Linked DNA regions of Homo sapiens. The protein of the gene in region 6 interacts with the protein of the main gene of each other region in a pairwise test. Each region holds a gene or a part of one and is shown on either strand. Other genes may lie near its edges. The genes, in order: RNF10, TRIM38, TBC1D1, RNF166, TRIM37, UBE2E2 and ZNRF2.

Evidence for each region.
Region 1: the proteins of UBE2E2 (region 6) and RNF10 interact in a two-hybrid assay, tested with the Homo sapiens proteins (one large-scale study listed by BioGRID and IntAct).
Region 2: the proteins of UBE2E2 (region 6) and TRIM38 interact in a two-hybrid assay, tested with the Homo sapiens proteins (one study listed by BioGRID).
Region 3: the proteins of UBE2E2 (region 6) and TBC1D1 interact in a two-hybrid assay, tested with the Homo sapiens proteins (one large-scale study listed by IntAct).
Region 4: the proteins of UBE2E2 (region 6) and RNF166 interact in a two-hybrid assay, tested with the Homo sapiens proteins (one large-scale study listed by BioGRID and IntAct).
Region 5: the proteins of UBE2E2 (region 6) and TRIM37 interact in a two-hybrid assay, tested with the Homo sapiens proteins (one study listed by BioGRID).
Region 7: the proteins of UBE2E2 (region 6) and ZNRF2 interact in a two-hybrid assay, tested with the Homo sapiens proteins (one study listed by BioGRID).

Annotation. Positions count from the first base shown.
Region 1 is NC_000012.12:120,540,856-120,544,355, reverse strand, and holds part of RNF10 (E3 ubiquitin-protein ligase RNF10), read right to left. Parts: intron 1-3,500. UniProt on the Homo sapiens protein: E3 ubiquitin-protein ligase that catalyzes monoubiquitination of 40S ribosomal proteins RPS2/us5 and RPS3/us3 in response to ribosome stalling.
Region 2 is NC_000006.12:25,979,802-25,983,301, forward strand, and holds part of TRIM38 (E3 ubiquitin-protein ligase TRIM38), read left to right. Parts: intron 1-3,362; coding exon 3,363-3,500. UniProt on the Homo sapiens protein: E3 ubiquitin-protein and E3 SUMO-protein ligase that acts as a regulator of innate immunity. Acts as a negative regulator of type I interferon IFN-beta production by catalyzing 'Lys-48'-linked polyubiquitination of AZI2/NAP1, leading to its degradation.
Region 3 is NC_000004.12:38,048,084-38,051,583, reverse strand, and holds part of TBC1D1 (TBC1 domain family member 1), read right to left. Parts: intron 1,967-3,500; coding exon 1,686-1,966; intron 1-1,685. UniProt on the Homo sapiens protein: May act as a GTPase-activating protein for Rab family protein(s). May play a role in the cell cycle and differentiation of various tissues.
Region 4 is NC_000016.10:88,696,409-88,699,908, reverse strand, and holds the end of RNF166 (E3 ubiquitin-protein ligase RNF166), read left to right. Parts: exon of another isoform or gene 1-175; intron 176-176; coding exon 177-289; intron 290-823; coding exon 824-938; intron 939-1,299; coding exon 1,300-1,407; intron 1,408-1,793; coding exon of another isoform or gene 1,794-1,975; intron 1,976-2,275; coding exon 2,276-2,341; 3' UTR 2,342-3,408; downstream 3,409-3,500. UniProt on the Homo sapiens protein: E3 ubiquitin-protein ligase that promotes the ubiquitination of different substrates. In turn, participates in different biological processes including interferon production or autophagy.
Region 5 is NC_000017.11:59,047,881-59,051,380, reverse strand, and holds part of TRIM37 (E3 ubiquitin-protein ligase TRIM37), read left to right. Parts: intron 1-52; coding exon 53-167; intron 168-1,987; coding exon 1,988-2,203; intron 2,204-3,500. UniProt on the Homo sapiens protein: E3 ubiquitin-protein ligase required to prevent centriole reduplication. Probably acts by ubiquitinating positive regulators of centriole reduplication.
Region 6 is NC_000003.12:23,206,327-23,209,826, forward strand, and holds part of UBE2E2 (ubiquitin-conjugating enzyme E2 E2), read left to right. Parts: intron 1-2,365; 5' UTR 2,366-2,373; coding exon 2,374-2,549; intron 2,550-3,500.
Region 7 is NC_000007.14:30,364,597-30,368,189, forward strand, and holds the end of ZNRF2 (E3 ubiquitin-protein ligase ZNRF2), read left to right. Parts: intron 1-1,343; exon of another isoform or gene 1,344-1,408; intron 1,409-1,438; 3' UTR 1,439-3,093; downstream 3,094-3,593. UniProt on the Homo sapiens protein: E3 ubiquitin-protein ligase that plays a role in the establishment and maintenance of neuronal transmission and plasticity. Ubiquitinates the Na(+)/K(+) ATPase alpha-1 subunit/ATP1A1 and thereby influences its endocytosis and/or degradation.

The DNA.
Region 1 (3,500 bases), on a different chromosome or scaffold from region 6:
TAGAGTTGGGGTCTCACTTTGTTACCCTGATTGGTTTCCAACTCCTGGACTCAAGCAATCCTGCCTCGGCCTTCCAAACTGTTAGGATTAAAGGCATGAACCACCATGCCTGGTTTATCTTTTTTTTGTTTTTAACAGTCTCACTCTATTGCCCAGGCTGGAGTGCAGTGGCGCAATCTCGGCTCACTGCAACCTCTACCTCCCGGGTTCCAGCAATTCTCCTGCCTTGGCCTCCCAAGTAGCTAGGATTACAGGCATGAGCCACCACGCCTGGCTAATTCTGTATTTTTAGTAGAGATGGAGTTTCGCCACATTGGCCAGGCTGGTCTCGACCTCCTGACCTCAAGTGATCCACTCACCTCGGCCTCCCAAAGTACTGGGATTACAGGCATGAGCCACCATGCCCAGCATGTTTTATTCCCCCAGGGTGGAAAGCAGTGGTGCCATCATAGCACACTGCAGCCTCAACCTCAGCTTAGCATCTTTCCAACTCAGCCTCCCAGCTAGGACTGCAGGTGTGCACCACCACACCCAGCTAATTTTTAAATTTATTTTGAGACAGGATCTTACTTTTGTCACCCAGGCTGGAGTGCAGTGGCATGATCTCGGCTTACTGCAGCCTCCAACTCCTGGGTTCAAGCAATCCTCCTGCCTCAGCCCCCCAAGTAGCTGGGACTCCAGGCATATACACCATTCTTGGCTTAATTTATATTTTTGATATAGACGGGGTTTTGCCATGTTGCCCAGATGGGTCTCAAACTCCTGAGCTCAAGCGATCCACCAGCCTCAGCCTCCCAAAGTGCTGGGATTACAGGCGTGAGCCATCAGGCCCGACCTAATTTTTAAATTTTTTTGTGCAGACGGGGGTCTCACTATGTTGCCCAGGCTGGTCTCAAACTCCTGGGCTCAGGCGATCCTCCAGGCTCAGGTGATCTTCCCACCTCAGCCTCCCAAAGTGCTGGGATTATAAGCATGAGCCATGGGGTCTGGCCCCACTTTTATCTTATTACAATGATTCTCAATCTTGCCAGTTCATAGGAATCACACAGATGAGCTTTTACGGAATTCCTATGCTCAGGCCTCACCCTCTAAGATTCTGATATAACTATACTAAAGTACCTGTCTGCAGACCTGTAATATTATCTGAGTAATTTTTTTTAAACTTAGAAAAAATTATTTCTTGGTAAGTACAATCACCAGCTTTTTATAGCAGGCTAAATAAATTCAAGGTTAAACAATGCCTCAGAAAGAAGAAAATGTAAGTTAATAAATCAGAGACCAAATTTTGAAAGCAACCACTTCACGCCCATAGTCTGTCAACCTCACTGTATAAATGAGATGTCATTCTCTCCAAACCTGACCACCTAAAACCTGGGAGTCAATCTAAACCATGTGAAATGGCAGCAATGTAAACAGAACAGTCACAGAAACAGGCTAGGTTCACTCCTACCAGTTACCCTTAAATCCTGCTTACGGACAGTGACCCTTACCTTAGTTACAATTTAAGGCCAGGCATGGTGGCTCCCTGTAATCCCAGCACTTTGGGAGGCCAAGGCAGGCAGATCACATGAGGCCAGAAGTTCGAGACCAGCCTGGCCAACATGGTGAAGCCCCATCTTTACTAGAAATACAAACATTAGCCAGGTGTGGTGCCACACGCCTGTAATCCCAGCTACTTGGGAGGCTAAGGCATGAGAATCATTTGAACCCGGGAGGCAGAGGTTGCAGTGAGCTGAAATCACGCCACTGCACTCCAGCCTGGGCAGCAGAGTGAGACTCTGTCTCAAAAAACAAATAAATAAAGTTAGAACTTAAAAACTAAACTTTTACCTATTACTTCAGTTAGCAACAGTTAGTGTCAAACATGGCACTAGTAGTAACAATTAGAAAGCAAAGTTTCAGCGCTGGACTTGGTGGCTCATGCCGGTTGTCTCAACACTTTGGGAAGCCAAAGCAAGAGGATCACTTGAGTCCACGAGTTTGCGACCAGCCTGGGCAACATAGCAAGACCCCATCTCTACAAAAAATTTAAAAATTAGCCCAATGTGGTGGCACACACCTGCAGTCCTAGCTGAGAGGCTGAGTTGGAAGGATTGCTTAAGCCAAGGTTGAGGCTGCGGTGTGCTATGATGGCACCACTGCTCTCCACCCTGGGCTACAGAGTGAGCCTCTGTCTCAAAAAAAGAAAAAGGCCAGGCACGGTGGCTCACGCCTGTAATCCCAGCACTTTGGGATGCTGAGGCGGGTGGATCACGAGGTCAGGAGATCAAGACCATCCTGGCTAACATGGTGAAACCCTGTCTCTACTAAAAATACAAAAAATTAACCAGGCGTGGTGGCGGGAGCCTGTAGTCCCAGCTACTCAGGAGGCTGAGGCAGGAGAACGGTGTGAACCTGGGAGGCGGGGCTTGCAGTGAGCCAAGATTGCACCACTGCACTCCAGCCTGGGAGACACAGTGAGACTCCATCTCAAAAAAAAAAAGAAAAAGATAAACCAGGCACAGTGGTTCAAGAGTTCAAGGATCTCTTAAGCCAAGGAGTTCAAGGTTTCAGTCAGTTATGTTTGCACCACTGCATGCCAGCCTAAGTGACAGAGCGAGAGCTTGTCTCTAAAAAAAAAAAAGCCAGGCACGATGGCTCATGCTTGTAATCCCAGCACTTTGGGAGGCCAAGGCAGGTGGATCACGAAGTCAGGAGATAGAGACCATCCTGGCTAACATGGTGAAACCCCATCTCTACTAAAAATACAAAAAATTAGCCAGGCTTGGTGGCGGGCGCCTGTAGTCCCAGCTGCTCGGGAGGCTGAGGCAGGAGAATGGCGTGAACCCGGGAGGCGGGGCTAGCAGTGAGCGGAGATCGTGCCACTGCATTCCAGTCTGGGCGACAGAGTGAGACTCCGTCTCAAAAAAAAAAAAAAAGGAAAACTCAGGGGATGCAGAACCCCAGCTAACTCAGCCACATTCTCTTGCTTTGCTTTCCTTAACTCCATTTCACATCACCTCAAGCAAAGGAGATTCTACGAGGATAGGTATATAAAGAAAACACATATCCTCCAACCTCATTATCCAAGACTGTTTCAGATGATCCTGGACCCTACCTGTTTGACCCTAACTGCTGCTTTCAAGATGCACCTCACGGTTTGCATAGATTTAGGTAAAGCCAGATTCTACATGGCAAGGGCTTATTAAGAAAGTAAAATGGCCAGACACGGTGGCTCATGCCTATAATCCCAATGCTTTGGGAGGCCGAGGCGGGCGGATCACCTGAGGTCGGGAGTTCGAGACCAGCCTGACCAACATGGAGAAACCCCGTCTCTACTAAAAATACAAAAAATTAGCTGGGCATGGTGGCGCATGCCTGTAATCCCAGCTACTCCGGGGGCTGAGGCAGGAGAATAGCTTGAACCCGGGAGGTGGAGGTTGCGGCAAGGCCGAGACTGCACCACTACACTCCAGCCTGGGCAACAAGAGCAAAACTCTGTCTCAAAAAAAAAAAAAAAA
Region 2 (3,500 bases), on a different chromosome or scaffold from region 6:
TTTAATTTTTCTAAGATAAGCATTTAAAGCCTACAAATTTTCCTTAAAATTCTGCTTTAGCTTCATTGTATATTTTTATAAATAACTTTTTATTATTGTTCCATTCTATACATCTTCTAATGACTTATTAGTAGTTTACATTTCCTAATATTTAGAATCTTTTTAGTCATCTTTTTATTATTGGTTTATAATCTTATATTGAGGCTAGAGAAAATGATCTGTGTAATACAGATTTATTGAAACTTGTTCAGACTGTTTTCTGCCTAGTATTTACTCAGTTAGTGCATGTTCCATCTATACCTGAGAAAACTGCATATTCTCTGCTTACTATTATTAAACAATTGCTGAGCTTTATGTATTGACTATGAGATTGCGCTTCTTAGATTGTTCAGACCTTCCGTATCTTCCCTTATTTCTTTCTTTTGGTCTGCCTGATCTATCAATTATGGAAAGAAGAATGTTAAAACATCCCATGATGATTGTAGATTTGTCCATTTCTCCTATAATTCTACAATTTTTGCTTTGTATATTAACACAATTCTAAACATGAATTCACTAATAATGTAGTACATTTATGTTTAAAATTGTGTTATCTTTTTTAGGTGACTCCTTTCATTCTTTCTTTTTTTTTTTTTTTGAGACAGAATCTCTCTCTGTCACCCAGGCTGTAGTGTAGTGGCGAAATCTCAGCTCACTGCAACCTCTGCCTCCCCGGTTCAAGTGATTCTTGTGCTTCAGCCTCCCAAGTAGCTGGGATTACAGGCATGTGCCACAATGCCCAGCTAATTGTTGTATTTTTGGTAGAGCCAGGGTTTTGCCATGTTGGGCAGGCTGGTCTTGAACTCCTGGCTTCAAGTGATCCGCCTGCCTTGGCCTCCCAAAGTGCTGGGATTACAGGCATGAGCCACCACACCTGGCCCTTCTTCCATTCTTAATAATGCTCTGACTTAATATCTTTTGATATAATACTATAACAGTATATGACTATATTATCTATCTTTTAGCTTCCAATCTTTCTATATGTTTTTGTTGATGTGTCACACCAATAGATAGGTGGAATTTTAAAAATCCAATTGATATTTTTTCTCTTAAGTGGTATTACCACCCCGTAAACATTTTAATTTCTCAACATGGGTTTTCCTGGGTCATTCAGGTAATATGAATTGAAACCCCAAACTTCTGTGAGTCAGGCTGATAAAAGCTAACTGAATAGAGTTTGAAAAAGGAGGGTATTTACAAAGGTGAGGAGTTGGGAAATCCACAAGGAACAGGAAGCACCCAGAACTAGGAACAGTTAGAGAGCCATCACCTCCTCTGGGCCTCAAGTGGCAGGTGTAGGGAGCTGTAACTATACTAGAGTGTGCCCAGAGGCAGAGGAATGCAGACCCTCCAAATCATAGCGTGGGACTGGGGTACTGAATACTCCCAAGGCTGCTTCTTTGTGCCCTATGGTCTCCTCTGGTGCTTCCCATTGGCTGAACCAAGCCAGAGGGCGGAAAGCCTGGTTAATCTGTCCATGTCAGCCTTCCTGGGCACAGAGCAAGACAGGGAAAAGTGAGGGATTATTTGGAAGAACAAACAGAGAGCATCCAGCACAGGAAGTGTTTCTGAATACTTGAATTCCTTAATTGTCACAGACCAACTGATCAACATTTAACTCAGTAGCACAGTGGTTTCTTAACTCTCTTGTTAGAACATCCTATTACCATTTTTTATTTTTAAAACTGCATACTGTTCAGTATCTCACTTTAGGTTATCAGATCTTTTTTCTGTCTTGTTTGATTCTAGTCTGATATTTTTCATGTATATTGGTCCTCAGTGTATTATTATCTCATACTAATGCTTATGGAACATTATCTGAGGGGAAAGAGAAGAGCTTACAATTAAAAGTCATGGGACTAGGCATGTGTCATGAGACCTGGGTCTTCCAATAACAAGCTAAGACATTAGCTGAGTCATTTTCCCTCTCTGATTCTCAATGTTGGTGGTTATTCAGTAGAGAAGGGAAAAGGTATCTTTCTGCTCAACTGTCTCATGATTCCTGGAAGTCCTGCATGGGAGAAGAACTTTGGACAGGATGGTAACCATATTAACAGGTTAGTTCTGTACCTTGGCATCCTTGAATAATTAAGACGAAGATGATGTTGATGATATCATTATTACTACATGTTGTTAGAAGAGCTGAAGCAGGACTGGCTTGTCTGTCATAATGTAAAAGAGTCTTGGAAGATGTCCGGGGTCCAGGGTCCAAAACCCCTCGTGGCCTTTGGAACACCAAGCTCTGTGCCAAATGGTGGAAGGCTGCCCTGCCGCACCACAAATCTAAGCCTAGGGCATAAAACCCCTTGTGGCTTGGATGGAACCCAGGGCTCAGGGCATAAAACCCCTCATAGCCTCTGGAAAGTGCACAGACTTGTTGGTTCCTTGCTTTTCACTCATAAACGTGTCCTCTACTATCTCAAGCAGCAGAGTATATTCTACATGTGTCAAAGAAAATGCTAAACTGTCACAGCTACGCTTAATGCACCACTACCTTTCTACCCCCATGTCCTCATGCCCTCACCTGTTTACCCTCACGTCCTCACCACCTGCTTCTTTGTTTGATCACCAATAAATAGTGTGGGCTCCCAGAGCTTAGGGCCTTTGCAGCCTCCAATCTAGTGCTGGCACCCTGGACCCACTTTATGCACTCTTAACTTGTCTTTTCTCATTCCTTTGACCCCGCCGGACTTTGTAGCCCCCACGGCCTGGTGTTGGGCCTGATCACCCCAACAACTACCACTTATTAGGTGGTTACCATGTACCAGGAATTTTACCAAGCATTAAGCAAACATAAGCTTATTCAATCCTACCCACCATTCTCTGCAACAAATACGGTAATTTCCACTTTATAGTTAACAAACTGAGGCTCAGAAAGTTAAATGATTTGCCTAAGCTCACCCAGTTTATAAGAAACAATAGTTGGGTTTGAACACAGGCTGGTTTTATTGAAAATAACTTGTGGCTGGGCATGGTGGCTCACACCTGTGTAATCCAGCACTTTGGGAGGCCGAGGTGGGTGGAACACTTCAGGTCAGGAGTTTGAGACCAGCCTGGCCAACATGGCGAAACCCCATCTCTACAGAAAATTTAAAAAAATTAGCCACTTGTGGTGGTGCGCACCTGTAGTCGCAGTTACTCCGGAGGCTGAGGCAGGAGAATTGCCTGAATCCAGGAGGTGGAGGTTGCAGTGAGTTGAGATAGTGCCAGTGCACTCCAGCCTGGGTGACAGCAACACTCCATCTCAAAATAAAATAAAATAAAATAACCTGTGTTCTTCACAGCAACAAAATTATTTTTGTTTGTTTTGTTTTGTTTTGCAGTTAGTGTGACTCTGGATCCAGATACAGCTCATCACGAACTAATTCTCTCTGAGGATCGGAGACAAGTGACTCGTGGATACACCCAGGAGAATCAGGACACATCTTCCAGGAGATTTACTGCCTTCCCCTGTGTCTTGG
Region 3 (3,500 bases), on a different chromosome or scaffold from region 6:
TGACTGTGACCTTGAACTCTTGGCCTCAAGCAACCTCCCACCTCAGTCTCCCAAAGCTCTGGGATTACAGGAGTGAGCCACTTCGCCCAGGAACAATAATATTTCTTTCTCTATTTTCTTTTTCAGGAACTGGCAGGAAAAAAAATTTTTAATTAAAGTATAAACAAAAGCAAAAAAAAACTGAACTTTAAAAAATACATTTCCCTTTAAAATGAACAATATCCTGCCCTGAATTTCAATGTCTTATTTCCTGTAGATAAATCGGAAAAGAGCTCACAAGGGGGAAAGAAAGCAGAATGGGCCATGCTAGAGAGGCAGACAGACAGGCATCTCCTCATCCCTCCCATTACGGATGTGTGACATCATCTATTATAAAGCTACATTCTTCATGGAGAAAGGAAAAGTACTGATACTAAGTCCTATCAACTCTGGCTTTTGAGAAACAGCAGACTTCACAAGAGAACTAGGACTCTCCAGACAGGAATGTTTCAATGATCACTGAAAACGCCAACAACAGAGGAGTGGGCAGGCAGTGGTGAGGCAGCACAGAAGTAATGTGCAGACAGGGTGTTAAACACAAGAAACTTACACAGCTACAACCCAACGATGTGTGTCTCTAAAAGCGTGTATTTATTAAGCAGTACCTTCTGACATGTCCCCTGCTTTTGGGATCACCACTACCCCGCTGAATTCCAAAGAACCAAGAACTCTTTCCAATGGCTGACAGAAAACAAAGCTGGGAGGCTCTGCTCCATCATCCAGGACTGTTAATGCTCACACTTCTTTACTCAGAACATTCCAAACACTTCTGTACTAACTCACACTCTCAATGATCCGTGTATGAACTACACGAACACATAGGTCCTGGGACTTCTGCGGCTGCTGGTCAGAAGAAGGCAGCGACTGTACACAGGTGTGACCTTGATTCATATTAGGTGAGAGATTTTTAAAATTGTTTAAAGTTGTTTTTAAAGATAACTGTGTCCATTTATAGTCTCTGGCACACAGAGTTAAATGAATCACTAAGGGACACTTGGAAGGAATGGGGGGAACTTCTGATTACTCTTCTCCATAACCAGACGATTCTAACTGGTCACAGGAACCCAACTATTACAATGAATAAATCTTGTTAGAAGAATCTAGAATTCTTACAGTGAGAGATTTTAGAAAACATCTACTCCAATTTTGTTATTCAGAGAATTTAGCAAATTCGTCCAGGTCACAATTAGTTCACGGCAGAGCTAGGACCAGAAGCTGAAGCACCCCTGTCACCCTATGAGGCCAGCATACCTCTCTTGCTCTGCCTGTAAGGATCAGCGCCTCTCCCTCCCATTATAACCCTGCTCCAGGGCTTCAGATGGGGAGACTCATCCGCTTGCCCTCTTCCTCACAGCAGCAAAGTTCCACAGTCAACAACGTCTCTTACTTTGTTTGAGGAGTAATGACTATGCATGTTAGGTACCATTTTTGCTCACTTTCACTTGCTTCCTGACAATACAAGTACCCATTGCTTGTATACTCACAAGCAGCTCGAACGAACATGTCACTGCTTCCAGTTTTATCTCCAAACCAAGAGTAAAGCCTGACTCATTTCTCTCACTCAATAAACATACCTGGGATGCACATACCTGGCTAGTCACAGATATGCCCCAGCTATTTATGCAACAAATTTAAACAAATCTTACTTTCGTTCATGAGGCGTCTCTGTGCTCACTGAGTGATACCTCATAAGTTTCCTTTGCGAAACCCCCGGGGACCCCCGGGCAGGTTGTGGAGGTTCCTGGCATTCGATGGGGAAGTGACTCAGGGTGTTTGCTCGCCTCCTGAAGGCCTGCTGGGGCGACAGCGGAGCTGGCTCTTCTGGGAGATGACTCTCCGAGTCACTGGACAGGTCCTCCGAGGAGCCGAGGAGCTTAAAGGAGCTCTCAGAGATGGGCAAGGCCTCCTTTTCACACACAGATGGCTCCTGGGAGCAAACACACAGCAGATCAGACACACCATGGGGAATATGTGGGATTTATAAATCTCTAGTTCCTGCACGGGCAAACATTGCAGTATCTAAGTATGTGTTCTGATTATAATGCCATCTAGAAGCCACCACCAAAAGCAGAAGAAAATGAAGGTCCATTAAATAAATGCCCGCTCCTCAAGGACACACTGCTGGCTTGCTGGAGAAATGGGGAGACTGGCCAAGTGCAGGAGTGAAGGACATAAGCCACAATCTGTAACGTTCTGAACAACGCCATGAATAGTGCCCTCTCTCTAGAAAACAGGACTGTTTACTGCAGCTTCTAAGGGGTGTGAGTGCTGGAGAACTTGTCTCCACTGCTTAACCAAGTTCTTTATCTTTGCCACATGTGTTCACTCATGTTAAACCCACATTTTAAGGCTCTCTCCGAATCTGATCTACTGTTGAGATTCGACTTCATAATTTGAGATTAAGAACTGTATCAATATTCTTAGAATATGGAAAATCACTCTGTAGGCACTTACTGCTGCAATTCAGGGCAAATAATTTCTTTCTGCACCTCAATTTCTTCTGTAAGAGGGTAAAGTAAAAATGTATCTGAGTTTCAAGAACAAAGCAAGATGATACAACCAAAAGTACTTTTTATGTTGTAAAATGTTACACAAACATAAGTTATTGTTTTATTAGGTATGCAATAAATCTATGGAGTGAGTGCTCAAACATTTGTTGAGAATCATGACAATATTTTAAAGTTGTATGCCTTCACGATGCACGCTTTTTCAAAGGAATGAACTACTACCACTCAAGCAAACTGATGTTTAACACTGCACCCAGGACGTGGCTAGTGGCCAATATATTTTTAATATATTCAAAATATTCAAAAAGAGGAATTGTAGCAGCTTGCTCCTATTGAAATTGTTGGAAGAGAAAAAATAAATCAACAGGAATAGAGTAAACAAGAATGAATGCATCTAACAGTGGACTGGAGACTGAATTCTACCTGTTCATTTACACAGTTGAGTGCCTTTTAGGTAACAAGTATTGAGGGTTTTAATTTGAAAAAAAAAAAAAAAGAAATGTGTTTACCAAAGGGAGAAGTTACATACATTTAATTGTATAAGAATTAGGAAAAAATTCCCAACATACTATGAAATATTGATTACTTTCATAACTGAAGTTTTTCATTCTTCAGGACTCAACAGTTGTGAAGATTCTTTTAAGGATTTAAAAGTCTCTCTAAGACAATACATCACAGAACACAATCTCCATCATGCAAACCTGTTGATCTAAATTCTTACTAATATCCCTCCAAATCATATCAAAGAGCTAACCCTTAGCTTAATTGGACAACTGAAAGGGCCATTTTCATTTGTCAAGTTTCAGGGCTATTTGGTTTCTTTGCAACTCCTAGGTGATCAATTTTTTAGAAGGGATCCAATTACATAAAATAGAATATAGTAGTTTCTCAATTCAAGATGAATAAAAGAAAGATGTAAAGTACACTTAAACATATACAATACATACAAGCAGC
Region 4 (3,500 bases), on a different chromosome or scaffold from region 6:
TGGCTGCTCAGTGCCTGAGATTGTTTTAGCAGCAGAAGGGACCGGGTCCCCCTGCTGCTGGCAACACAGACGCTTGCTTACAGTTCTCTGGTCCTGGACACCTGAGGTCTCGGCCTCCCCAGGACGGCCCTTCCAGATTCTCAGGACCGCCTTGCCCTCCCTGCCCTGTCTCCTAGGTGACCCTGGCAAAGATGAGAGTGCACATTTCGTCCTGCCTGAAGGTCCAGGAGCAGATGGCCAACTGCCCCAAGTTCGTCCCCGTGGTGCCCACATCACAGCCTATCCCCAGGTAGGCACGCTGCCGGGCAAGGGAGAGGAACTGTCCTCGGCGGTTTCCTCGTTCTGGGAGCAAGCGCAGTGCCCCATCCCAGAGAGGCTGGGGGAGTCACCCGGGGCCGGGTCCACTCTGGGGAAGTGGACCTTCCTTGCCACCCTGCAGGAAGGCTCCTGTGCTGCCCTCCCTGGCATACCCACCAGGCCCCCTGGGGTAGGGACAGCTCAGCTGTGGGGAGCAGGAGGAGGGCGCAGGCCGGGCCCACACATCGCCTCCCAGCAGGTGGATGGGCCGAGAGACGGCTCCTGCCAGGGCAGCGCCAGCAGAGTCTCTGCCGTTTGGCTGGCCTAGTTGTGTGGGGTGGACGAGGGTCCTGGGTGTGTCCTCAGGAGGCCATGGCGTGCAGAGGCACGGGGGGCACCCAGCCACTGCCACGCTCTTGCAGCCTACAGAGGGCAGGCCTGGGGCCACGCCTGTGTTTGAGAGAAGCGGGGAGGCAGAGCCCCTAGACACCTAGCCGTGCCACTCACTCTACCCCCGCCCCGCCAGCAACATCCCCAACAGGTCCACCTTCGCCTGCCCGTACTGTGGTGCCCGCAACCTGGACCAGCAGGAGCTGGTGAAGCACTGTGTGGAAAGCCACCGCAGCGACCCCAACCGCGTGGTGAGCAGTGCCTGCCCCAAGCGACGCCTGCGCCAGGGGAGGCCTGTGGGGGACAGTACAAGGCCCAGGAGCCTGCTCGCGGCGAGTCCGGGGGTGCCCAGGCCACAAAGGCCTCCTGGGACCCAGGGTGGGAACTTGGCTGCCCGAGCAGCACCTGGCGGAAACCGGGGAGTGTCCATGAGTCCTTCAGGGTGACGCGCACTGAATAACTCGCTTGTCACCGGGACACGCGCCTCCAGGTCTGGGGTGCCTTCCCAGGCTGAGGCAGCACTGACGGGGCTCAGTGGAGGGCCCCCAGTCCTACTGCGGCTACCCCGCCTCTCCGCGGTCCGGCTCGGCTTGACCCCAGTGCCTGTTCCAGGTGTGCCCCATCTGCTCGGCAATGCCCTGGGGGGACCCCAGCTACAAGAGCGCCAACTTCCTGCAGCACCTGCTTCACCGACACAAGTTCTCCTACGACACCTTTGTGGTAGGCATCCCGCCAGCACCGTCCTCCCCCACGCCCTCCTCATCCACCCTCCTCCTGCTCGGGCCCCTCGCCAGCCTCAGGGTCCGCAGGGTTCAGAGGAAGCCAGAAACAGAAGCCTCGTTTCAGGTGGCCACATTCCCCCAGGTTCTGTGGGGGCTGCCTGCAGGTGGGGAGTGATGGCAGCTGAGTTTGAGTGGCCACTAGAGGGTGCCCAGGCCTCTCGGGGACATGGACCGCACAGGGCAGGTCCCTGCCTGCCCACCCCACAGAACCCCTCGAGGGTGAGCCAGGCTTCCTTCTGGAAGCTTTCTAGAGAGCGCGGGAAGGACTTTCATCAACATCGAACACTCCAGCCCTGTCTCCTTTTCCCACCCGCCGCGGGTCAGGCACACACCTGGCCCCCGGGCCTGCAGACCCTCGCACAAACTCCTCACTCCTGGTGCGGCCCCTCCCTGCGCCGCCCTGTTCATTCCTGGCCCTGGCTAACAGTCCTGGCGATGGCTGTCACTCCCTCTGCCAGTCGTCCGGGACCCACGCTCCGCCTGCCTCAGGATGGAAATTGTTAGAGGTCAGGGAGCCCTGGCCGGCCTGCTCACCTCGGAAACCCCGGGCTTAGAGTCCGACCTGAACCAGCAGCCATCCATTCCGAGTGCCCCCGTACCCAGCGGGTGATGGACACACCTTCACCTTCTCACCCCCCAGAGGACCGTGCAGGCCCCGAGCCTGTGGGGACAGTGGAGCTGGGTCCTTCCTGTGTCCTGCTGGAGGGAGGCAGGAAGGGTGGACACGCCTGTGTGGGTGATGGGCAGAGGGGACCTCTCCTTCCTGTCTCCCTCGAGCCCGGTGCATCTCTCCTTCCTGTCTCCAGGACTACAGTATTGACGAGGAGGCCGCCTTCCAGGCTGCTCTGGCCCTGTCTCTCTCTGAGAACTGAAGGGAAGCGCAGCCACCCGCCTGCGTCTGGGGTCAGGGATGTCCCCGCTCCTGTGTCGCACCTGGCACCTGCTCGGGAGCGCACCTCACCGGACTGAGCTCACAGGAGGAGCCTGCACCCGCGCAGAAGGGGAGCCGGGGCCGAGCCTCCGGGCCTGAATACGGGCCAGCCGCCGAGGCCGCCAGAGCAGGGCCGCCTGGTCCCACCGGCGTCGCTGGGTTCTTCGGTGCTTCTGGCCGAGCAGGCGGCCTACTTGGGCAGGGCTGGACGCTGGGACCTGGAGCTGCCGCCGTCTCTTCAAAGCCATGATACCCCCTCGTGGGAAGAAGGGACCGACGCGCGAGTCGCGCTCCGCAGTCGAGCCGGGAGGAACCCAGGCTGCTGCCCTGCCCAGCCCGACCCTGCCCCGGCCCCACTTCCACCTTGCGCATTTGGTACTGGCTTTTGTGATACTTAGGAACCCTGGCATCTTTTCTATATTATCCAGTGTGATAATCTTTTCACGTTTTATAGAGCAAAGACAGAGCAGTTACTCTTCATATTGCAATATCTGTGTTTGACTAGGAATAATAGTATTTTTATGGAACATTTACAAAATTATATTTTTTAAGAAAACAATCAAAACAAGCATTGGGGGATTGGGGCAAGGATGGAAGGAGCAGTGGGGCAGCTGCCAGAGCTCAGGCGAGCCATGGGGTCTGCTGTGGGGTCTGCCCTGGCCACCCACTGTGTGTCTGGGTCCTTGAGGTTTGTACGTTTCTCTTTGATGACCAGGAAGAAATCCCAGCACCCCAGCCACAGGCTGTGGCTGCTCCCAGCAGAGGCGGGGCCGGCAGAGAAGGGGCCTCCTCCACCCAGAGTCCTGGCCTTGGCCCGCTGTCACCTTCAAAGCTGACTGTGCCCCGCTGCGGGAGGGGACGGCACCCCAGTGGTGGCAGAGCTTGGGGGCCTGGGCAGGGGCCCGCTTGGCGGGCCGGGCAACACGTCAACATTCTTTTCTGTTCTTGGCATTAATTATTGCTGTCTTTTTTTTAAAAAAAAAAGTTTAAATAAAATGTCTCAGAGCATCTCTAGCAGCCTCGACTGGCTTTTGTGCTCCACGGTGTGGAATCGCCAGCTGCTGTCTGTGTTGGAGGTCGGCTGTGTCCTCCCCAGGCAG
Region 5 (3,500 bases), on a different chromosome or scaffold from region 6:
ATAATGTTTTACTATTTGAATTTTTTTTTTAATGTGGCACAATTCTTTTAAGGTTTCAGGTACGTTCACCAACTTTCTTTCAAAAATCCCGGGACCAGCATTGGTACATTACTCAGTTGGAAGCTGCACAGACTAGTTATATCCAACAAATAAACAACCTTAAAGAGGTAAGAAAATATCTATTTCTGTTTTGGTGTTTCCTATTGTCCTTTTGGCTTGTTATATTTGTAATTAGATTTTATATATTTTATTGCTATTTGTAATTTTGTAATTTGTAATTAGAAAAAAAATCTAGTTATCTTGTTCCCCATCCTTACCAGTTCTGCAGTGTCCAGTTTAGTAGACACTAGCCACATACGGCCATGTAAATTTTTATTTTACTTTATTTATTTATTTTTTTTGAGAAGGAGTCTCGCTCTGTTGCCCAGGCTGGAGTGCAGTGGTGCAATCTCGGCTCACTGCAAGCTCCGCCTCCTGGGTTCACGCCATTCTCCTGCCTCAGCCTCCTGAGTAGCTGGGACTACAGGCGCCTGCCACCACACCGGGCTAATTTTTTTGTATTTTTAGTAGAGACAGGGTTTCACAGTGTTAGCCAGGATGGTCTCGATGTCCTGACCTCGTGATCTGCCCACCTCGGCCTCCCAAAGTGCTGGGATTACAGGCATGAGCCACCACGCCCTGCCACTTTATTTTTATTTTTTTTTATTTTGGAGACAGGTCGGACTCACTCTTGTTGCCAGGCACAATTTCCACTAACTGCAGCTTCAACTTCCCAAGCTCGGGTGATCTTCCCACCTTAGCCTCCCAGGTAGCTGGGACTACGAGCATGTGTCATGGCTAGTTTTTGTTTTTGTGGAGATGGGTTTCTCCATGTTGCCCAAGCTGGTCTTGAACTCCTGGGCTCAAGCAGTCTGCCTGCCTTGGCCTCCCAAAGTGCTGGGATTACAGGTGTGAGCCACTGTGCCTGGTCTGTAAATTTAGCTTAATTAAAATTAAAAATTTAGTTCCTTAGTTGCAGTAGCCACATTTCAAGTGCTTGCATTGGTTACTGCAAATCTAGAGCATTTCCATCATTGCATAAAGTTGTTTTGAACAGTGTGGCTGTAGTTTGAGGTAAGCTGTTTGTGTTTCTGTCAGTGACTTAGTTTCTCTTCCACAAGTTATCTTGGATTTAGAGGATTCTAGGCTATAGCACAATTAAAAGTTGTCCCATCTTGAACTCTTACTATTGTTGAATGAGCACTGGGGAAGATTAATTGATGAATTTTTATTTTACAGTGGTAAACTAAGGAATGTTTCATTTCCCTTAGGAAGTTAGGGTGTGGCAGGAGGTTTGGAGTGCTGAGAGTCGTTAATAGGTCAGGGAGGAAAATGTGAATAAATACATGCTTTCAGAGATTTTCATGTTAAATGTGCTATTTAAAACTGCCTGTATTCACTATACTGTTTGCTAATTGTATGTTTAGCTTAGGCTGGATATGAAAGAAGGAGGATGAGCATAAATGGGGCAGTTTATCTTTGTCATCAATTTTTTTTTATAAATAAAAGGCAGTAGGGATTCAGAGAAATGGTTTAAGAAATGGTGCCAAGTGAGGTGGCTCATTCCTGTAATCCCAGCATGTTGGGAGGCCGAGGCCAGAGGAACATTTGAGCCCAGGGGTTCAAAACCAGCTTGAGCAACATAGCAAGATACCGTCTCTAAAAATAAATAAAAATGAAATTAGCCAAGCATGGTGGCACACACCTCCAGTCCCAGCCACTTGAGAGGCTGAGGCAGTAGGATCGTTTGAGCCCAGTAGTTCAAGGCTTGCAGTGAGCTATGATGGCACCACTGCACTTCAGCCTGGGCAACAGAGTGAGACCATTCTCAAAAAATAAATAAAGCAATGGTTTTAGAAACATCTGGATGCATTTTTTTTTCACTTGAGACATCTTTTACTGTGCCAGTGAGCTGTGGCTAATATTTGTGCTTTTCTTGTTTTAAAAGAGACTTACTATTGAGCTGTCTCGAACTCAGAAGTCAAGAGATTTGTCACCACCAGATAACCATCTTAGCCCCCAAAATGATGATGCTCTGGAGACACGAGCTAAGAAGTCTGCATGCTCTGACATGCTTCTCGAAGGTGGTCCTACTACAGCTTCTGTAAGAGAGGCCAAAGAGGATGAAGAAGATGAGGAGAAGATTCAGAATGAAGATTATCATGTAATAATGAGGCCAGTTTTAGATTTTTGTGTTTGATTAAAAAAAAACAGTAGCATCATGGCTTTTAACATATTATGTGCTAAAACAGTAGGCTAAAAATATTGTCCATTGATTTCCATTAGTAATGTATGTATGCCCTTATGTAAATGTTAATAAGTCAGAAGTTGTTGAATCAAAGCATTTCAAGGTTGTGAAAAAAACAATACATTGTATAAAACAAACCGTGATACACATTTTAAAACCTAAACTACCATACATTGTGGATTTTAAAAATGTGTTCTGGCCGGGTGCGGTGGCTCACACCTGTAATCCCAGCACTTTGGGAGGCCAAGGTGGGTGGATCACATGAGGTCAGGAGTTCGAGACTATCCTGGCCAACATGGCCAAACCCTGTCTCTACGAAAAATACAAAAATTAGCTGGGTGTGGTGGTGCTTGCCTGTAATCCCAGCTACTTGGGAGGCTGAGGTAGGAGAATCACTTGAACCTAGGAGGCGGAGGTTGCAGTGAGCCAAGATTGTGCCACTGCACTCCAGCCTGGGAGACAGAGCAAGACTCTGTCTCAAAGAAAAAGAAAAAAAAAAGGTGTTCTATTTTCATTCACTGAAACTAGTACATGCCTTATCATTACTTACGTAGGTAGACTGATTTAGGATTCGGTAGCTAGCCAGGTTCTATCCCAGCTAAACAACAGTCAGAATCCAGAATAAGAGTTCAAGAAGTAGTTGATATTTTTACATAAGAAGGGATGCATAGACAGTTGGTTTTTTTGTAGTAATTTTTAAGATGAGAGACTTCAGTTTTAAGTTAAAATGAAGGACCCAGTGGGTCGAGAGAATGCACAGATTAAGTGCTTTGATAAACTAGAGATAATAGGGTTTGGAATGGAGCAGTCAGGTGAAGCAGTTAACCTTTGATAAACTGAGTTAAAGGAAGGGTGGAGTTTGCAGGTAAGGCAGCTGAAAAGTTGGGGAAGTTTTTGCTTAATAGTGGGTATTTTTTTTCTGTGCAGATAGGTGACAGTGTTAATTAATGACCTTGATAATGGTAAAATTAGGTAGAATTGAGGAGTGATGGTTTGAAACGTTACTCTGTGAGGAAGCTGATGTGGAATATGTGAAGGATTCCAGTCACACTGAGGGCCCAGCTGAAGGCGGCACGCATAAGTTAGTAAAATGATATCAGTCAGTGTGGTTGTGTGATTTTTCTCTACAGGGCTCAGCAGCTGAGGCACAGGAGCAGAAAATAGATTTTTGAAAACTGTATTATTCTTTGGTGCTTGGTTTATGGGCTGGATG
Region 6 (3,500 bases):
GAATTTAGAGTGAAATAAAAATGAAAAAAAGCAAGAAATATGTTACGACTTTTAGAGCTAGATGTGAAACATACTGATATAAAATTTCAGTGTTCTATTAAGTGACTTTAGTGCTCATAAAAGATGTCACAGCTGTGGAGACTGGTGCTCTTCATTTACAGAATAGGTAGAAAAGTAGTCAGCTTTTCCGTTAGTATGTTTCAGAGCTGTTGGGGCAGATCTGTTTCTGTTTGGCATGGGGAGCTGTTGGGGTTGAAGGGGTGCTGGTGGTGGTGTGTGTGGTGTGTCAGTGAAAGGATTCACTATTTTCTGTTGACTCTTTGTGGCTCTGTGCTTCCTGATGCTTCCATTCTTTTGCAGTGCTTTTTGGTTTGTCTTACAAAAATTTCAGTCCATTAAAGATCGGTGTTACAACATTGCTTTGGCTTAGAGCAAGCTACAAGTTAAATCTTTAGTGATGATGAATTTTCATCAGTGTCAAATAGCTATCCATTTGGACTAAGTTATAGTAATTAAAAAATTTTGCTTTATTTGAGGTATCTTTACCTGTTCTTATTCTTGATCATATCAGAAACAGTTTTATTTCAAGTTGTAATTTGATTAAGAGTAATCAAAAGGATCCATTTCAAAAGGAATTTGTTCAGTGTACCTATAATTTTTAAAGATATATTTTTTGCTGTTAATGGTACTTATTAAGTATAGGTATTTTGTTTTTAAAAAGGTGTCTGAGAAGATAGCTATACAGTGCTGAAAGTGATTATTAGGTGACAAAACCATGGGGAGCACAAGGCCTTTTAGAGTCTGGGCATGAGTTTTGTTGGTTCAGTTCTGGATTTGTCAGAACACTTTAAGCTAGTCAGCTCATAAGGGATGTATTCATAGTCATCAAACTCAGAAATTGATTATGATAGAATGACAGTTGAGGAGAGATACTCCTTTTCACTTACTGGAATTGTTTGTGTCTGCTGTCTAGATTATAACAGCTACCTAAATATCAAGGTATTGAGGAAATTGAGTTGGTAATCAGAACTGCTTGGGGGGCCTGAACTCAGAGCAAAGGGAATTTGAAAGCCTTGAGGGATATTTTAGCCAGAATGTGGGGAAAAAAAAAAAAATCTTCAGTGTCTTCATCTCTTGTGAAATATGGTTGCTTTAGTATATAGCTGAATGCTGTCATATGGTTCAATTTTTATTTAGAATCATGCAGTCATGCAGGCCTCTGTGTTCTTCTGTTATCACAAAGGTTACTTAAAACCACTTACTAGTTTGGAGAATTTTAACCTTAGCCCAGCCCTGAGGATGTATTGATTGAATAGGGATTTGAAAGTGTCGTCCCATTTTTGTGTTCCCACAAGTATTTGTACTAACCTTCGTTTTTGTACTTAGCAAGTTGGCTAGTCGAGGTTTTTCACAGTTGTGGGACCAAAGGGCTTAGCACAGCGCCTGGTAGAGAGTAGACCCTTAATCATTTTTGTCTTATTTTCTGTAACAGCATTATTGATATATAATTCACATACTATAAAATTTACCCTTTAAAAATGTACAACTCTGTAGTTCTTAGAATATTTATTATTAGAATTGTGCAAGATTATAATTATCTAATTTAAGAACATTTTTATCACCGCACAGGGAAGCATCATACCCATTAGCCGTCACTCTTCACTACTCTCCCCTCACTCCCTGGCAACCACTTACCCATTTTATTTTTTTATTAATTTTTTTTTTGAGACAGGGTCTTGCTCTGTCACTCAGGCTGGAATGCAGTGGTATCAATCATATTTTTATTTTTTGTAGAGATCGAGTCCCACTACGTTGCCCAGGCTGGTGCTCCCTGAGCTTCCCAAAACATTGGGGATTACAGGCGTGAGGTTCACTACTGAATTTTATGTTTATGGATTTGCCTGTTCAGGACATTTCATATAAATAGTCAAACAGTTTGTGGTCCTTTGTGGCTGGCTTCTTTCACTTACCAGAATGTTTCAAGGTTCATCCATTTTGTAGCATGTAGACACAGTACTTCATTCTTTTTTATGGCTAACAGTACATTATGTGAATATACTACTATATTTTGTTCATCCATTCATTTGTTAGTGGATATTTGAGTTGTTTCCAGTTTTGATTATTATGAATAATGTTGCTATGAACATTTCATGTATAAATTTTGTATGTTTTCATTTTAGAATACATTTTGAATGGATGAAGGAAAAGTTTTAGCAACTCCCAAAGCTGCATTGTTTTGTAAATGACCAATTTAATCCATTTTATATTGAGATTTACTTGTTTTACTTTGAGGCTCATTCTCTGTGTTCTGGAGGTAGCTTACTGTAGTACAGCTAAATAAATGATTTTTGATTCTTTAATCCAGGATCTAAAATGTCCACTGAGGCACAAAGAGTTGATGACAGTCCAAGCACTAGTGGAGGAAGTTCCGATGGAGATCAACGTGAAAGTGTTCAGCAAGAACCAGAAAGAGAACAAGTTCAGCCCAAGAAAAAGGAGGGAAAAATATCCAGCAAAACCGCTGCTAAATTGTCAACTAGTGCTAAAAGGTACTTCAGTTATTATAACCTTTTTATTGTTGGTATCAATTTATCATCTTAAGTTCTATTTTTCTCTTGCATTTAATCATTTTTTCTGGGATGTCGGCCGTGAACTTCATGGATTTTTCTTTTCCCTTCAAGATGATCTCGTTTACATGGTTTTAACCATAGGGAACTTCAGTATTTAAAGTCAGTTAAATGGCAAGGCAAATTCATAACATACATTTCCATAGTGTGTTTGTGTGTTTATGTATTATCAGGGAAACATATACAGGGTGTGTATGTAAAATTGCAGTAGTTTCATTTATGGTTACTTGACCATAAATATTTTTTTTCTGTTCAGTAACACAGAATAGAGATTAGGAATCTTTGAAGTAGTTACTGAGTGAGTGACAGTTTATTTTCCACTACTCCCAGTTGGTAAAGTCAGAAATGCTGACATTAGCAACAGGTGCATCTTGGTTTCATTACATTAGTCAGTGGATCCATCTTGATACGGATTTTCTCTTTCTCTAGAGAATAGATGGATCTGGAAAGTAGGTATTTGAATGATTTTCTGTTGGTACTCAATCTCTTAAAATGATTGGCATGTCACTGGACTTAAAGGGAATCTGTTTGATATTGTTACATTATAGAATATCTCTTGGAAAATAATTTGAAAGATAAATTAAATGTAGTGTCTTTCCTGATCCTGTGATTTTATGTTCTTGCTTTGTTTTCATATATTTTACATTGACCAAGTCGGAAGTATACATAAAAGCGATCTGTAACTTGTAGGCATAGTGGAATGCCTGAATGTTGTATTACAGCTTTATATGTTATTTTATGGTGTGGGTTAAGGGGAACTCCTTTCTCAAAGATAAAAAACCATTATTTTGTTCTAGTAGACCTTGTTTTCCTTTGGCTTAGTCAGTCTACAGGGTTGGAAAGAACCTTCTCAGGACCCTTGGTGAGAGATGT
Region 7 (3,593 bases), on a different chromosome or scaffold from region 6:
AGGTTTGGAATGCCTTCATTGTCACCTTATGTTTGAGACAAAACGAAACTGTGGCTAAAATTATAGAAGCATTTTAAGGGAAGTACTGAAACTGATGCTAACAAAATGAAATTTTTGTCTTAGTATTTTACATGCCAAAGTAATACATCTAAATCCTTCATCTATAGATAAAATTTGTCTTTTTAGTCTTTCTTAGTGCATTTTGGGCTGCTATAACAAAATACCTTAGATGAGTAATTTATACATGACAGAAATTTAGTGCTCACAGTTCTGGAAGCTGGGAAGTCTAAGATCAAGGTTCCAGCCAGTAGATCTGGTGTCTGATGAGGGCTCATTGCTCATTTATGGCACCTTCTGTGTGTCCTCACGTGGTGGGATAACAGACTCCCTCAAGCTTCTATAAGGATACTAACTGCATTCATGTGGTCAGAGCCCTCATCACCTAATCATGTCCCAAAGGCCCCACCTCTTAATACTATAGCACTGCAGATTAGGTTTTAACATAGCAATTTTGGGAGTACACAAACATTTAGACCATAGAGCTGATAAGCTTTTTTTTTTTTTTTTTTTTTTTTTGGTGAGGTGGAATTATATTGTATAAATTTTTTTTCTTTCATCAGCTAAATTTTTCCTTTAGTGTCACAGTGAGCTTATGGGATATGTGGAGCATACATCTCATCTCATAGCTGAAATGCATATGTCTGTTGGTCTTCAACAACATTTCCATTTTCTTATGTTACATATGAGTGTTATATTTGCTTATTTGTTTGTTTTCGAATATAGAACCTGAATTTGAAACTAGCCTACTACATGGGCAGGGTGAACTCTGTTAATCAGGTGTCTACAGAAATCTGAACCAATGGAGTCTGCTTCTGTGGGTCTTGAAGAGTCATTTTTAAGAGTTTATAGACATGGAATATCTTGACTTGTACATTTTTGCTTCTGTCCTGACTGTTCTTATTTATCAAGTGATAAATTCTTGTATACCTTTTAATAGTCCTAGATTAAAGGTATATGGGTTTGAGGAGGATTCAGTGTTGTTAAAACATTTTGTAAGGCACTGTGTAGCCATAAAGCTCAACGTTTCTGATATCCTTCAGCATAAGAATTTAATAATCAACCCAAAATAGAGAGACATGAATATTTGTGGTCTTGATTAGTTAGAAAATTGCTGTACTTATTTTGGGGTTTTTAGTTATTTGGGAGAAATATTTTAAATCTCCGTGTGTGTGCATTCTTTACTTGCGTGTAGTCCTTATTGTGAAAGGGGGATGACTTTGTTATGTATTTTTTGTGACTAAACTTTAATTGATCCTTCTGTTTCTTAATCTGTTCTTCTCCAGATCACTGATTTTATGAGTTTTCAGAATAGTAAGTAAGGGTATGAAGACTTACAGTAACTAAAGCAATGTTCATGGGGAAATCTATTTTTACACAGGTTTTCTTGTCTTGACAAGATGCTTGAAAAACCAAGAGGATATGAAAATCTGTCTCTGGAGAAACAAAGACGCAGGCATACTCAGCCAGAAATCTGAGTTTTGTGAGACTTGGTAATACAGAGATGGACAATCGTACTGGGGTAAAAAAACCCTGCTGAAGAGAGGACAGTGACCACAGAACTCAGTGTACCAAACATGCATACAAAGGACACACAGGGATTTTGAAAATGCTGCACATCCCTTAATAGTCATCTACATAGGTAATACTGATAAACATTTTGTATTCAGACGCCAAAGTTAACTGATTTAAAAGTTGATTTACTTTTTATTAAGTTCTCCAGAGCTGCACAACTAGTTATGTTTTGATTTGTTTTGTTTTTTAATTTGGGGTCTCTTTGTTTTCCCCAACATAATGTTCATAATGTTTCTGCATTCATCTGTTCTTAAATTGAAAAACATATAATTTACTTCTTATAAATTGAAGTCTTAAATGTGAAACCAAGAAATGTAATCAAGCAGTAAAAACATCTGAATGTAGACCATGATCTCAAGTTCTTCCATTTTCTCCCCCACGAGTGGAAAATAGACTTCTACATAGGAAAGCTAAAATATGTTAATATTTTTAAATTAAAGGTTTAATATCAGAATGCAGTCCAAAGAGCAAATCATATTACATAATTACATTTTAATTAAATATAGAATATTCTACTGAATTGCAATTTATTAAATATTCTTATCCTCTTAAATAAAACTGCTCAACAGTTAATCAGCAGTGAATCATCTTGCAGCTATGCAATTTAAAAAAAATACAGATTACCAATTTCAAGTGCTGCCAGCTAAAATAACTGTTTTAACGGGTATCTTTTGTTTGTTCTTTTCACTTAATTATTTTATTGTGCTTTGCATCTCCAGGCAGTTCTCTCACATTTGGGTAAAATGTTTAGCAGGCTGTAAACTTAAGAAAAGGGTAAAATAAAATTTTCTGGAGAGGAACTTGGAATTTGAGGGAGATTTTATATACCTTTAAAAACTGTAATTTAATTGGGATGCCAGGTTTATAGCAATTTGCAACTTTAATTTTCCAGATAATCTGGAGGTTAGCATTTGATAAATGATTTTTTAAAGTAGATATGAAGATTTTGTTAATTTATAATTTATTCATGTGTTATTACTGTAATTGAAAATGTTATAGACACTTTTAAATTCAGTTTGTGTAGAAAGAAATGTGTTAAACAAAATTATGTTAATAAATATTCCCACATAATACATCTGAATGGTTAAAAATACTGGAAGAGTTGTCAGGGCTACAATAGTGAATGTCCTTTTTTTTAATATCAAAAATATCGATAAGTAGGTTTTGTGTTTTCAACGTAGGGAAAATGTTATCAGTGAATAGGTGGTGTACTTTACTTGGTATAATTTAAAGTTGCACAGTAAGTACTGTTTCCTTATTTTAATCTTTCTTTACTCATAATGTATTTAAGAATTTGCTGTTTTATTTAACGCTGCTACTCTTAATCTTCTCTAAATTTTTCCCCCTACTTTCTTGCTTCTGTTTCACATTTTTTAAAAGGGCAAGTACAGGAGCAACTGCTGCTACCCAGAAAAATGTGTGTATTATAAATAATTAAAGAGTTTTTAATTGCTTTCTGTATGATTCCAGCTCAGATAACATTTTCCCTGAAGTTATGCTGTGAAATGCCTTTTGTTATGCTGCAATTGCTAAAGGAATCCAAAACCTCCATTGTGACAGCTGAAGGCACAGTTTAATAGGTGCTTTTTTACTAGTTATGAAAAATATTCGTCCCTTAAGGAAACGATTCTTTTTCTGTTTTTTTCTGTTACCATGAAGTCTTAATTTGATTTCATTTTATTTCACATTTTTGATTTTGTAAGCTTTCATACCCTCCTGCTCAACCCCCTCAAGTAAAACCTCTTAGAATGTGAATAATTGGTTCATTTTCTATTGCTGGTATACTCTTGTGATGAGAATTATTTTGTTGTCTTCCATTCTTAAAGGAAGAGATTTATTACAGCTGTGGGGATTAACTGTATTCTCCTGGAAGTTGATTTTCTGATAGGTTAATGCAAAAGTCATTGCAAAAACTGCTATTACTTTTGCGCCAATTTAATAGTTCACTTGTTTACTTTTTA